Regions from separate parts of the Homo sapiens genome. Here region 1 is linked to region 2. Evidence: fine-mapped expression QTL. Tissue or cell type: spinal cord. Region 2 holds a variant in brackets; the other region holds the start of a gene. All regions are shown on one strand. Distances are between the middles of the regions.

Region 1 (2,889 bases), 240 kb after region 2:
GGAGGCGCGGACGGAACGGCGTGGGTCGGGCGGGGACCTCGAGGGGAGCGGCCCGGGCGCCTCTTCTGCGGGTGGGCGGGCGGGCGGCCTGCAGAGGAGGGGGCGGCGGGAGCAGGCGGCGCCGATTCCGCTCCGCGCGGCGCTGGCCGCTTCGCTGCAGCCGGGGCTTCGGCGGGGCTGCGGGAGCCGCGCTGGCCGGGCCGCGGCTCCGCCTGTCCTCACCTGCCCGCCCGCCTCACCGCGGATGGCGCCGGCGACCGGGGCTGCGGGGTGCGCGCGGGCTGCTCGGAGGCGCTGTGGCGGGCGAGGGCGCGGGTGGCTGGAGCACCCGGCCCGCGGCAAGGACCGGCTGGCGGCAGGCGGGGCGCGCGGAGCCCGGGGCTCGGCCGAGACGGAGCGAAAGAGAAAGTAAGACCGAGGACCGGGCAGCCTGGCCGGGGCAGCTCTGTCCCCGCCGGGCCCGGCTGTGCCAGGCAAGCGGGTACAGAGGGGTCCACGCGGGCCCGAGGGCGGCAGCGGCGGGTCGGGAGGTGGCCGGGTGGGTCCCTCCTGTCGGAGGCACTGTCGCCCCGGCGGCCCGCGCAGGCTGCCGGCGTCCCAGAGGAGCGCCCTCCACCACGCGGGGCACAGCCGGGGATAAACTTCACGACCACAGTTCCCAGCCCGGGCAAAAGTCTCCATTTTGCTCCCCAAGTGGCTGCGGCTGTCCCGCCGTCGCCACCCCTGCCCCTGCGCCCGCGGAGCCGGGTGGGCGCCGGCCCGCGCCCCCTCCTCCGCCCCTCCCCGGCTCGGGGTCTCCCTCCTCTGCGCCCGGCTGGCGGACGCCAAAGGCGGTGCTCTAGCGCCCACTATTTCAAAAGCCCGGAATATGATTTGACCAGGACTGAGAGCCACTCGGAGAGAGAGAGGGAGAGAGCGAGCGGGGAGGAAAAAGTTGCTCTCCCCTTTCGTCAACTTTTCGCTAACTTTCACTTTTCGCTCCCCTCCACCCCCGGCCCTCCCCCTCCGCCCCCCTCCCCGGCCCCCACCGCGCGCCTCGGGTTCCCGGGCCCGAGCGCCTGACACTGGTGGGGGGGGAGGGGGTTCCGCGGGGAGGGGGCCGGCGCCTTCGGGGAGCGCGCGGCCCGGGCGCCCCGAGCCTCCGCGCCGAGCCCGGTCGCCCCGGAGCGCGGGAGGCGGAGCAGCCCCCCGGGCCGCGCGGCCGAGCCGGGGGCCCGGAGCCGCAGGCGCGCCGGCCGCGCCCCGACGCGCACCCCTGGCCCGGGCGCCCCGGCCCGGCGGCCCGGGCCCCGGCGGCGCGGCGCGGCCGAGCGCGGGAGACTTACTTTTGGCTAGCTTCCTCGCCCTCGCCTTGGATCGCATGGTGTCGGCTCGCGGAATCTCTCTCCTCCTCCTTGAGTCCAGAAGCAGCCACACACTATCTTCATCTCCCCAGCATTGTCAGTTTGGACACCTTCGCACATGCGCACAGAGCACTCAATCTGACACCCCTCGCCGGGGCCAAAAAAACTTTGCAATGTATTCATCATCCTCATCGTCGCGCCGCCGCCGCCGCCGCCGCCGCCTCGGCGCGGGATTGGGGGGCTCTCCTCGGCCTTCTCGGTCTTCGTCTCACTTATCTCTCCCCCCTCTCCCCCCCCCCCTTTTCAGCGCAGCTCGGAACTGGCCCTTTAAGAAAACATTCCGTGTTCGGCGCTCCCGCCCGGGGCCCGCACCCCGGACACTTTAAAAGGACCCAGGTGGCCCCGGAGGCGAGGTGACTATCCCCCCACCCTGCCCCTGCGTCGCGGCGCGTCGCGCTGCTGCTCCCGCCCCAGCCGGGGCCGAAGATGGGGCGGCGGCTGCGGTTTTCCACACGACTTCCTTGGATCTCGGGGCACACGCGCCGATAGTTCGGACGCGAGTCCGGGCTGGTTTTGCTCCGTTTTACTGCGTTTGATTACTAATTTAAAAGCTTTGCGTTCCCCGTCGCCCCGGCCCGCTTTTCTCCTGCATTCTCCCCTCGGCCCCCGTCCCCGCCCTGCGATCGCTGGAGGGGGCGTCGGGGCTCGCGCGCCAGAACCCGGCTCCTCCGAAGCCCCCTCCGGGCCCCACCGCCCCCCTCGCGCCTCCCGGCCCCCGCCTCCTCCCCTTCGCCCCCACCCAACGGCTGCTGCTTCGGGCTTCGCGGCTCAAAAACAACAGCGGAGGCGCCGCCAGCTCCGCGCTCCGCCACTGCCCAGGCCGGCGGGCGGCACTCGGACCCGCCGCCCTCGGTCCCTCGCGAGGCCACGGAGGCCAACACGCCTCGCACGGGGGGACAGCGCGGGGGCAGCCGTCCAAACACCAGGCGTCCTCGGCTGGTCGTCCCAGGGCGCCCGCACCTCTCCGCCCGCGCTCTCCTGCCGCCGCGCCCCCAAGGTGAGTACCCGGCTGCGCGAGCGCCCGAGCTGGGCCACCTTCGGGGACCCGGGCCACTGGGGACACTCCCCTCTGGCCTCTCGGGGCCCAGGTGCGTAGCGGGCGGAAAGGCCAGCGGCGCAGGTGGAGCAGCTCGGACGGGAGCCGACCAGACGCTTCCTCTTCCCCTGTAGCCCCCAAACTCCGAGGCGCTGCGGCGGAGGGGCCGGGCTGAGCGCAGGCAGGGTGGCCCGGGCCCAGGAGCCTGACGGCCTGAGTGCGGATTTCTCATCTGAGTATCTGGGAATCGAGAATGAATTGGAAGGAAACCGAGGCGCTGCCCTGGCCAGGTTGCTGCCCCGCACCCTTCCGGAGCACCGAAGTCCTGCCCGGCAACGGGACTTGGAGCTGCCGCAGAGTCAGCCTGAGCCCGAGGCAGGGGTCGCGCCCGCGATGCGGGGTCTCTGCGCCGCCCCGCGAGGCTCCTGGCCTTGCCCTCCCTGCCCTTTG
Region 2 (2,889 bases):
CTTTTCTGAGAACAAACTGGCTACGGGGGCGAAGGCGATTAGGGGAAACAACAACAACACACAAAAACCCCCAGCCTTCCTTCATTGACACAGAGAAGGAGGGAGGGGGGGAGAGAGAGGAGAGAGAGAGAGAACGCTCACACACATTTGGCAGATGAAGTTTGCTCCTGGATGGAGCAGGATAACTATGTGGGGAGGCTGGGGGACTTTGTAAGGTGGGAGGGTTTCAGGAGCTCTCCTTGTCCCCATCCTCATCGTGGCCTTCCTCTGACCTGCAGACTGTCTTTGCTACCTCATTAGCTACACAAAAACAAATCCTTCCGATTCGGTACAGAGACACCATCTCTCTCTCCCTCTCCTTTCCAGGACCGATTTCAGAAACAGTCTAGGGCACACCAGGGTTGAGAGGAGCCACCCAGAGTGATGCAGACTGTCCCAGCTCTCTAAACTGCCACCCAGACACACCGGTCCTGTCCCTAAAGGTCGGTCCTCCCCCACCACGTGGGAGAACCTTGTCACGGTCCTGGAAACCCTGCACTCAGGACTCCCTGGGCCACTCCAGGGCTCAGGCGGTCCGCTCCTTAAGGGACAGTGACTTGGGTCCATTTTATGTTCCCGCCCCCCCCCCCGGTGGGGAAGGACGGCATTCGGGGGCGAGGGTCCCATGCCTGGACCTTATTCCTTGGGGTCTGACACTGGGTGACTCCCTAATTACATTTCATATTCAGATGAATGAAACTCTGCAACCAACTGATGTTTTCCCCACAATCGGCAATAAATCGCAGCCAGGGCGCGAACAGTGTTCACATTCGCTCCTATTAATGCTTCCTGTCTCTGGACGCTGGGCCGGGTCCAGATTCGCTGCACTACAAGGCTTCCTGCTGGAGGAGTGAGGCCTCTAGGCTGCGTTCCAGTTACAACTGGCAGCTAATGCCTTCACACATTCGCAAATCCCAGGCCCGCCGGGGCAGGAGGCGGCGAGGTTTGCCTGGGGTCAGCAACTGCGGCACTGGCGGAAGCCCCTGGGAGGTGGTTCTGGCCCCCAGGCGGGGTGAGTGGAGCGGGGTCCGCACGGCCTCGCAGGCGCAGGTGAGGGGCTGGGAGGGAAGGACTCTTGAGCAGGCCCAAAGGGACTATTTCAAATTTTGGATACAAGTTTCCATTCACATCTGAATTCCTCTTTCCAGGTTGTTTCTCTCCCCTGGATGCCTGTGGGGGTGGGGACGGCAGAGCCTCGGACACTGCCCGGGGATCACTCTCAGGCTACTTTTCCCACCCTGCCAAGCTGCTCGAGACGTCAAAGGAGACCAGGCCGGTCAGCACACAGGCTTCTGGTAAGTGCCGCCCTCCGGTCTGGGAGCTCAGCTCTCCCCTTCTGACTCACCGCTCGGCGCTGACTCATCGTGACGGCGAGTGGGGCTCCAGCTCCGCGGCATTTCATAGACAGCGCGGTCACATTCCTTTCCAACAGTCGCTCTGGCCTCGATGTCTAAGGCTCCGTGGGCAGCCGGCCTGTGGATGAGGCGGC[G/A]GAAACCACATCCTCTTCATCATCCTCTCACGAGGAAGGACACTGACAGCTTCGGAGAAGGCTGCCCAGTGTCTGCGGGTGCCCTTGGGAGATGGCCTTGGGACACGGTGCCTGTGCCTGTGTGTGTACACCACGTGTGAACGCCAACTGGGAACACGGCCCCTTCGTAGGCAAACCCAGGCCTCCTGGAAGTCACAAGTTGATAGCTGTACTCGCCCCTTTTGGAAGACGCACGCCCAAGGCACCCGTGTGTGCACACGTATCCGTGTGTGGACCTCTGTCCACACGTGTGTGTTTTGAAAAGCCTTTCTCACCACATGTTAGGATCACAAGTGTTCAAAATCTAGGCACACTTTTCAGAAGTTATTTCTGGAAAAAATGTTGAATCTCATAACAGCAATAAAAGGAAAATACCGCCTCAGCCAACATAAATGTCTCCTTGGAACATGCCTGAAAAGCGGCGGAGTATTTGTGTAAGTTTCAATTCCAGCGTCAGAGCCTGCAGCTTGGCCGAGGCCGGGTTCTGCACAGGAGGGTGCACGGTCCCTTTCCGAAAGCCCCTCACCGGACTTCTGGGAACTCCCAACCCATCCCGGGAACCCCACCTGCCGGCCCCGGATCCGGATGGGCTCCTGATGTATCCCACAGAGGGGATGCCAACGTCAGACACCAGCAGGCTGGGGAGGAGCGGCTGTGAGGTGCAGCCGGCGGGTGGGCGGCCAGCCTCCAGGACAGACCTCGGAGGAGGCTGGGGGCTGCCTGCTGCCCTCGGGGCCCTGTGGTCCCACCACACCCGTGCCTGTCCCAGTGATCCTCATGTCACCGGCCCAGTGAGAGGCTGCTGCTACCAACCCCGCCAGCCTGCAGGCCGCTGAGTGCTGGGCTGCTCCTCCTCAGAGGATGAGCGTGGGAATAACCCAGTGGGGCGAGGATGCTGACGGCGCCATGGATGTCCACTGAGGGCCCGAGATGGGCCAGGCCGAGCTCTGTGCTTTGGAGTCAGATCTCATTTAAACCCAGCAGCACATCCCATTTCACACGTGGGAAGGTGGGGGAGTCAGGATCAGAGAGCAGGGTGTCGCATGGGGGAGCAGCCGGGCTGCGATGTGAACCCTACAGTCTGCCCATGAGCCGCACTCCTGGGCTGGACACTCCAGAGCCTTCTCAAGCAGCTTTCTTGGGGCTCCCTGAGCACCTGGCTGGATGCTGCTGGTCTGGAACTCTGGACGGGGGCCCCGGGAGCTGACCTGCAAAGCTGTAGAGCGACTGTGAGGCACTGGCAGCTTTGCAGCCCCTCTGGACCCAGGGTGGGGTGGGCTGAGCATCTGGCCTTCTGGGTCTATCTGGGAGGCAGGGCTGTC

Evidence for each region.
Region 1: PRDM16 starts here. The variant in region 2 is fine-mapped to the expression of PRDM16 in spinal cord (GTEx, PIP 0.97).

What each region holds. Positions count from the first base shown.
Region 1 is chr1:3,067,733-3,070,621 of GRCh38, reverse strand. It overlaps PRDM16 (PR/SET domain 16), which reads right to left and starts at 1,419. Exons shown (of 17, transcript NM_022114.4): 1 at 1,326-1,419. The coding sequence starts at 1,362. LOC124903827 (translation initiation factor IF-2) reads left to right here. Exons shown (of 5, transcript XM_047436614.1): 1 at 1-408; 2 at 1,651-2,400; 3 at 2,574-2,889. The coding sequence ends at 1,674. It also overlaps the pseudogene LOC100420339. RefSeq lists an enhancer at 2,526-2,889.
Region 2 is chr1:3,311,812-3,314,700 of GRCh38, reverse strand. All of the region lies in intron 3 of PRDM16 (PR/SET domain 16), which reads right to left. It overlaps LOC105378604 (a long non-coding RNA gene), which reads left to right. Exons shown (of 3, transcript NR_188664.1): 2 at 1,188-1,334; 3 at 1,472-2,889. Among named protein-coding and RNA genes, the nearest start is that of ARHGEF16, 140 kb to the left of the region's middle. RefSeq lists enhancers at 1,416-1,465, 1,222-1,516, 804-2,003. The variant G/A (reference allele first, on the strand shown) is at 1,529.